Linked DNA regions of Homo sapiens: region 1 is linked to region 2. The links come from fine-mapping of genetic effects on gene expression. Tissue or cell type: blood mononuclear cells. Region 2 holds a variant in brackets; the other region holds the start of a gene. All regions are shown on one strand. Distances are from middle to middle.

Evidence for each region. PIP is the estimated chance that this variant, and not a neighbour inherited with it, causes the effect.
Region 1: ROBO1 starts here. The variant in region 2 is fine-mapped to the expression of ROBO1 in blood mononuclear cells (TOPMed, PIP 0.96).

The regions. Positions count from the first base shown.
Region 1 is chr3:79,765,634-79,769,881 of GRCh38, forward strand. ROBO1 (roundabout guidance receptor 1) reads right to left here and starts at 2,365. Exons shown (of 31, transcript NM_002941.4): 1 at 2,119-2,365.
Region 2 is chr3:78,845,402-78,849,649 of GRCh38, forward strand. The region is part of intron 4 of ROBO1 (roundabout guidance receptor 1); the gene reads right to left. Among named protein-coding and RNA genes, the nearest start is that of MIR3923, 660 kb to the right of the region's middle. RefSeq lists a silencer at 1,458-1,752. The variant G/A (reference allele first, on the strand shown) is at 1,684.

The DNA.
Region 1 (4,248 bases), 920 kb after region 2:
AGTGGATTTTCAACTTTTTTTTGTAATTATTATATCCTAGTTCCCAAACAACCACAGTAAAGGAGGCACATGGAAAGCGAGGAAAAAATGAAATGGCATTGTCTTCCCCCAGGTGCTCAATCAGTATATTTCCTTTGATGTGTAGCCTTCAAGTAACTGACAACCCCAAGTGGCCCATTCTATAGGGTCCTGCATCTACGCTCCTTCCTCTGTGCGCTCAGCCCGGGTTGACAAGCAACCTCCAAATTAAACAACCTCCCACCACTACTTGGAAACAGACAACCATCTCTTAACAGGCCTCTGTAACACACAGCTTGATGAAAATCACTTACACAGGGCAGATGACACAGAGGAGTTTACAAGGTCGGGGCACTCCTTGGCGGGGCGTGAAAGGGTGGGAGGTGCTGAGGTCAGGGTTAAACTACCCTGTGAAATGAGCCTCCTGCCCTGCCCTTTCCTCCCTTCATCTATAGAAGGAGCCTCCAGTGAGTTCCTGCGTCTGGAAATCTGCCCCCTTTAGTGCCGCAGACAGGCCAGGGACAGCATTTCAAAGCTCCTCTAAATCAATCCACTTAAAAGAGCCCAGAAAAGCCTGACCATTGACCATAATTGCCCTAAATTGCTTGTTTTCCTTCCCCTCTTGCAGCCTCATCAACATTTCCCTTCTTTCCCCCTTCGTGTCCTTTTTTCTTGGGGGCGCAGGTCCTCTAGATGCTTGGGGTGCACACTAAGGATATTTGAGTAGTGGGAGCTCCGACTCGAGGCAGGAGTGGGATGTCTTAGCATTCCGTCTCCCCCACCCCACCCATCTGCGTGGGACACAGTGACTCCTAGAAGGGTATCCCAGGATTTTAGCGGCCAGGTGTGAGCGCCCTCCACGCGGTCCTCCGAGACCTCAGGGCGCGTGGCAACTGGGCAGAAGCCGTCTCTGCAGCGCCGCTGCCCCGGGTGGAGCGGCAGCCCAGGCTGCAGCAGTGGGGTTGCCACGCCGAGTTTTCCGCATCGGCCGCCCGCAGGGCTCGCCTGCTTCTCCCCATTGTGTTCTCAGAGCTGTGGGACCCAGCCGCGCGCGCAGCCGCACCCGCGCCAACGCTGGAACCGAAGGCTCATGGAAGCGGGGCTGGCAAGATGGGGCAGGGAGAAGGAGCAAGAAGGGGCCCCAGAAGGGCACGGCGTTTCATCAATAATGCAGAGGCTCCTGGACCTCCCTGCAATACGTTTTCCAGCTAAACGCCACCAACTGGAGCGCTTCCTGGTTCGTCCCACTCGTGTGGTTTTTGTGTGTGAAAGATGGGACGCACCTTTTTCATTCATCTGTCTTCTCTCATTCTTCCTCCTTCCCTCCCTCATTTCCTCCCTCAAAGTCCCCGCTGGCTTAGCTTTAAGCTCTCGTCTTCACATCAGCACCATGTTTTCAAGCAAAATCCTGCAGGTTGGAAATGCAAGTGTCAAAAGTCCCCACTGCCTACATACCGCCAAGAGTTTACCAAAATCCACCTAGTAACGCTTATTTTCAAAGCCCCCACGCGCATCCATTCCTGGAGAATGCTTTCAAAGTTTGGAAGCTCCCTGCAGCCTGCCCGTGTCTATGCCTCAGTCAGCTCACATCACGAACAACGGTGCGGTCAGCGGCACTGAGATTAGGCTGCAAAGTTGCCCGGCCCCAGCCCACTACACCGCTGATGCTCGCCGCATCCCTAGAGCAAATTCCGCTGTGTGCCCCCAAGAAGCCAAAAGCGGCACGAAACCTACTCCAACAAGGGTTAGCCCAGCCACACACACAACAAACAAATTCCAAAACTTCTTTGTTAAGCAGCCGCAGCCTACCTGGAACGGACACTCTGCACAACTGGCAAGGAAGAAACAAACATCGCATCCCTGCAGGAAAACTTGTTGAATCCCTCCCGATCGCAAGGCTGCAATTTCCGATTTAGCCTGAAGGTTTTTGATTCTACCCCAAAACACCCTGGCGCATCAGCCACAATTTCTGGATAAACTGCAGAGTCCTCTCGGCAACCATTCTGCACTCCAACAACCACTAGTGTAAAACCCAGCGTGTCCCCTTTTACAAATCAAAAGCCAGCTGTCACTTCCCTTGCAACCATTTCCGAGACTTACCCTTCCATAAGACTGTTTTCAGCAATCTAGAGGCTCCGTAGTGCAGACGCAGCCCTGCAACTTTGCTGTGCACTGAGACCTTTCCGAGTTTAAACCAAGCGAAAGGTGACAGACTTTTAAACCTAAGAGTGGGGAAATAGGGAGAGAGTGAAGTCGGGTTTCTTCTCTGTATCAGCACCCTGGAAAAATTCAATCCTTCTTCAGTAGAGAATTCTTTCAAACCCGTTATCTGTATTACTATTAATGCGCAGAGCAGAAGGCATTGCATACAAATAGGTCCAAGTGTGCGCTTCTATTGGTGGCTGCGGAGGCCCCTGGGTCCTACTGCTCCGGTCTAAACTACACAGCAACACTAGGCACGCAGCTTTGGAGACGCCGAGGGGAAAATGGATTTAATTGATTCGTTACCTCTGGTATTGTAATGCCTGCTGCGATGTTTAACCGAGGGGGGAGGAAAAAAAAAAAAAAAAACCCTTACATTTAACTCCTGTCATGTGATCTATCATTCCATAGCTGCTTTTAATTGTCTGTGTGGAGTGGCTTTGATCATACAAAGGATTTTAAAAGAACATTTTCGAAGGAAAATTCACACAGACACTTTTGGCAGGAAAACCCTCTTTTGCTCTCTATTATGCATTATTCTCATATAAATCCAGGAAATTTTATATAATCAAATACTTCTGCACTTCACGTAGGTACACACAACACCCAATTGTATTTACAATTCATAGCTACTACAAATAAAATACCTTACATGGGTAGTAGATAGTAGAAGCTAAAATATGAGTCTACCAATTATAAAACACGGGTTATATTAGTCAAATGCTACAGAAAAAATTCCATCAATGACAATGGCGTCAGCATCATTTTTACTTCGCAAAATTAGAAATTCAAAAATATTTTCCTTGTAAATATTGACATAAAGATATAAATCAACATAAAGGTATTATAATGTCACAGTATGTCAAGCATTTACTATTAATTGCTACATTATCTTTTTACAGTTTCTCTCTTAGCAAGTTCATTAGTAATGCAAATTGGCATAACAAGGAGATTTAAAGTGAGGCCGACCTGTGGTGACTAGCAATTTGAAATATTGTAATAGTGTGCAAAATCACTTTAGTTCATCATCGGTAAAGCCAGTTATTTTAAGAATTAGAATATTAAATGCTGAATCTTAATATATATTAATTTGAAGTCTTAAACATGCTGTTTTCTTTGACCTTTAATTTTGTGGAGGAAAAGAGAAATCCTTATTTAAACTAAAATGACATAGACTTTCCACAAAATCCTAGATACGATATTTACTGATATTATAATTTAGGAAGTAACATAATTTTATTGTCTTTGATGTAAATAATTGTGATAAATTCCAATTTAATTACAAAATTATTACATATATGTAATGTACAACTGAATGAACATTGTTGGAAAGGGCCACTCTGGATAAGGTTAACATCAACCAACCTATAAATTCACTACCTATGTGTAAACTAAATAAATGAAAACACAATGCAAAAATACAACAGACTCGAGATCTTATTCCAAATACATGTAAAGCATTTGAATTTATGTAGTGTGTGCTACAATCCCTCTTCATTTCCGTAACTCTTTCCCTTTACAGCCCCTTCCCTTCCCCCAATCAGTAACCCTTGACAACAGAAGTGTTAACTTCAAGTCCAGGTTGCCTTTGCTGCCTTCCAGACCTAACTTACAGATTGCATCCTTGTAGGAAACAGAGTTAACTCTTACACGACTGAGAGGTGAAAGAAGAGAGTTTCTTTCAGGGATTAGAAAATCCAGTATTTTTATGTGTATTTGCAAAGTTTGCACCAAACACATATTTTTAAAAATATCCATGATCACTAATTCAGAGTGAAAAGATGTGATCATTGGCATTGTATCAGAGTCAATTTGCTGTATATATCCATTGCTATTGTGTCACTGAAATAGCTTTTGAATAACTTTTATTCAGGGTTACTTCAATCACTTTACTTCAGGTTAATAATTTCTCCATTTACAATAGAGTTAAAATGAAAATACCAAAGTGTTGCAATATTCAGTATAAGGGTATAAAGGACTTTTTTTTAATCTGTAAAAGAAAAGAAAAGCTATTATTTCATATAGTAA
Region 2 (4,248 bases):
TTGTTGCTATGATTTAAAATTACACATGTGGCTCATATTTGTAGCTTACAGTATATTTCTCTTGTATTTTATATGTATACACTTTAGTGTGTGATATCTACGTGTGTGTTTATACAGACACACATATATTTCCTAATGAAAAGAAAAATATTTACTGGAAAGAAATTGAATAAATTATAGAAAATATTTTCATAAAGCATACAGAATTTTTTAAAAGGCCCCTCTAAATAATACACAAGCAAATGCTGTCTTTGAATGGCACAGGTTCAAGAATAGGTCACTAGAAGCTAAGCCTAATGCCCATCATGTCTGGGGAACCCCCGGAGGGGAAAGTGGTAGCATGTCTACCTGTTTTAATCCCCCAGTAGCACAAGCAGTTGCTCTGGAAAAGTGCAATAAACTGCCTTTTCAGATAAGGTAATACACGTGATTATGAAGAAAAGCTTTGAAATCCATGCAGTAAATCATTTTTAAAAACAATGTGTTCAGAATTCTTCAGACTAATAAATTATTCTTCCTGTACTCTGGTAGTGTTCCCTACTTCGCTGGTTTGTAAAGGTGGCCCTTGGAGACTCTGAAACATTGAAACCTGGTTTATTTTTATATAACATTTCAAGTACACATAGAAATTAGCCCCAAAGATTTTTTTTTTCCTCTGCCAATTGCCCTAGGATGAGGCTTCTCGCCACTAAACACTAGGGAGATGGTAAGAAAGATATAAATGTAAAATCTAATGTGTAATCTTTTTTGTAATTACAAACAAAACTGCAACATGGAGTTTTAGTTAAGTCACCACATAGTCAGTACAAGTGAAGTTCCAGTGGTAATTTCCTTCATGAAGCCAAGACAAATATAAAAAACAAAGGCTGTTCTTCTTGTCCAGAGGTATTCTTGGAGGTAAATGTCAAATTTTACTCAAATGACTTACAGTCTTATAAATCAGCAGCCATGTTTTTATTTTACTGATAATTTAATTGCAATTAAAATGGATGCAAATCCTCCCCAAACCCCAAGTAAACCAAAGTCCACTCTTAGACATTTCCCTGTGAGTTCAAGCCTTCTCACCAGTAAAGATAATCAATATCATCTTTATTTTTCACGATGGCATCTTTTCACATTTTATTTTGTATCAGAAAAAAGCATTTAAGCCTATTGAAAATATCACTTTATAAATAGAATATTTGAAAATATAATATTTGATTCAGACATTCCACCACTATCAGATCATTTTGAGGATACCAACACAAGATTCTGGTGTTTCTTTTCTTTTTTATAATTGGTCTATATAGACATGTCTACACTATGTCCAAGTGTAGTTAAATATCATCTGTTGACTCCTGACATTATGCTGTTATTACCTTAAAATGGAAACATTCATTTAAAGTATATAAGTGGTGTACTTTTAAAGAACCTTTCTGTGGTTTTCCAAAAGCATTCCAAAGAGGTTACTTACGTTGCTTTGAAACTGGTTTGAGTTATGGGAAGGCCATAGCCTCAGACTAGCAGCTGAGACAGCAAAGGAGATGAAAGTTTTTAGCTTTCAGATCCAAGGGGAAACACAGCTGCTACAGCTGGCCTGCTCAGATCTCAACACTTAGTACAATGATGGAGAAGGCGATAATGCTGTGTCTCAGCTTGAAAAGTGCATTAATAAAAACAATCCTTAAATAGAACAGGGAAATC[G/A]ATTAATCAAATCTAGGCTCCAGGCTGCAAAATGAAATGATTTTTTTTAAAGGCAAGGGAAGGGGAAATCCTCTTAGATTCTTAAAGATATCCACTTCTGAGACATTATCTTGACTAAATGAAATCATATGGAGGATGGAATATAACTTCTTAAGAAACTAAGTTTACCTTGGACAGGTACTTCTAAAGTTTCAACTTACTGTAATAGAAAATGGAAGTTTGGCAAATGTGTATCTTACATAATAGGGACCAGAAATGTGTCAGGCCACCGTGTGTTACTTTTTAACAGCTATACTGCAGAACGCATGTGCAAAGCTGGTAGCTCGTGGAGATTAGTTCCGCCAGAATGTAGAGTACCTGAAGTTGTACCTCAAAATAGTTGTCTAAGGAAGGCAAACATGCCTCCAGGAACCTGTAAGGGAAGCTATGCCAAAATATCTGGGTGGAGCACTTCTCCAAAATAATTATAAATATCAGAAAAATGTAAGACTTCCCTTTTCAAATAATAACACCTTCCTTCGAAGGACTTCAAAAAATTCTAAACAGCCATTATCTTATTAACCTTAACAACTCAGTTAGGTAGGTGAGAGAGTGGTATTATTATACCTATTATTACGATTATTTTAAAGATAAGGGCCCTAATTTGCTAAAGCCACATAACTTCTTCAAGGCCACACAGCAAGTTAAGGTGGAAATAAACCAGAGCAGCTCATCTTGGTCTAGAAATTCTTCACCATTCATTTGCAATGAGTCAGGCTTTCAGGTAAAGTGAAAAGTTAAGATAACGGAATGTATGATACTTCATATACATAAAATGGTTTTAGTATGTGTAGCAACAGTGCATTTAGAAAAAGAGAAATATGACAATAGGCTATAAAATTGATCAAGTAACTAATAATCCTTCTGACTTTTTTTCCCATTTTTTCCTGTCAAAAGGTAACATAAAACCAAACTGTGTGCTTTGATGCTAAGAACACTGTTACTTTTTTGAAAACAAACTGCAGTAACACTGAGAACACAGGAAATATTCTGTTTTTATAGTTTCTCAACAACCAAGGAAATATGTTAGTTCAAACTGGCCTATTAGCTATCTTAAAGGGCAAAATAGATGTTTATTTATTTAACTTATTTATCTACTTTTAAAAGTAGAAATTTTAAAAAAGCTACATCACAACTTCCCTAAGAAATATTAAATTGGCGCAACAGTAATTGCATTACTTTTAAAGGCAAAACCACAATTACTGTTGCACCAACCTAATATTTTCATTCAGTCAATCATTCATTCAACTAAATTTGTTCTAGATTCTGAGGATAAGGTAGTGAACAAAGGCGTCTCTGCTGTCATGGTGATAAGTACTAAGTAGAAAAATTAAAGCACAGTAAAGGGGTAAGAAAGTATACAATGAGGTGCAGGTTGCTGTTATATAGGAGGTCAGGGAATTGTCTTAGCAACTCTTGTACAGCACAGACCTTAGAGAAGGGAGGGGCCAAGTGGGCATCTGGGGATAGAATGGTCCACGCAGAAGGTGTCCTGCAAGTCTAGAGAGAAGTGAGCCACTGTGGGAAAAATGAGGTCAGAAAGGATTAGGTTGGGTGAAGAAGGACAGCGATCATTATCAGGTTTGTAATCCTTCCACAGATCTTGGCTTTGACATAAAGTGAGACTTTATCTTAAAGTCTGTCTAATCTCCAAGTTTAAAGTAGCACATGACCTGACCTACATTGTAGAAGCATCACTCTAGCTGCCTTGAGAAGAAAGAGGGTGTGGGGGCTGGGCAGAGAAAGCCAGCCAGGAGCTAACTTAAGTGGTTATCGCACTAATTTTCAGGTAAAGATGATGGTGGCTCGGTCTACCATAGTAATGGTGGTGGAAAATCAGGATGAGAGGCTGGACATATGTTTAAAGTAGAGATGGCAGAATGTTCTGATGGATTGGATGGGGGGCATGAAAGGAAAGAGAAGAGTCAAGGGTGACATCATGGGATTGAAGTTGAGCAAATACAAGATGGAATTTCTATTTACTGATCTGGGGAATTCCGTGAGTGGAGTAGTCTTTAAATATTTGTTTTGGACACAGTAAGCTTGAGGTGTGTTTTAGATCTTCTAGTGGGCATGATGGGTGGGCAATTCCGTGGAGCAATGCTTTGAAATTATAAAAGTTTAAGGGATCTTAACCAACTCCCTTCACTTACTTGTAGGGAAACATAGCAAATGTTCTCATAAACACATGTTTATTAGAGAGCTTTTGGCAGAAACCTCGGTATTTTGGACCCCAATTTATCTCTCATTTCATTATATCATGTTATAACTACATATGAAAAAATGGTCAAATTTTTATAGGACCTTTTAGGACAGCACTTTCACATGTCTGGCTGAGTGAAAGTGATTTTACTTATCACCCCTTTGGGAGCGCACAAAGCAACAGTTAGTCTCTTTTTGATAGTCTGGAGTTATTATAACAATAACAACTAAGAAAAGTTGAAAATAAATATCACAGAATGTTGTCTTTGTGTCATTTAAAAATAAGTTTTATATATATATATAAAATCACATCATATCATTTTC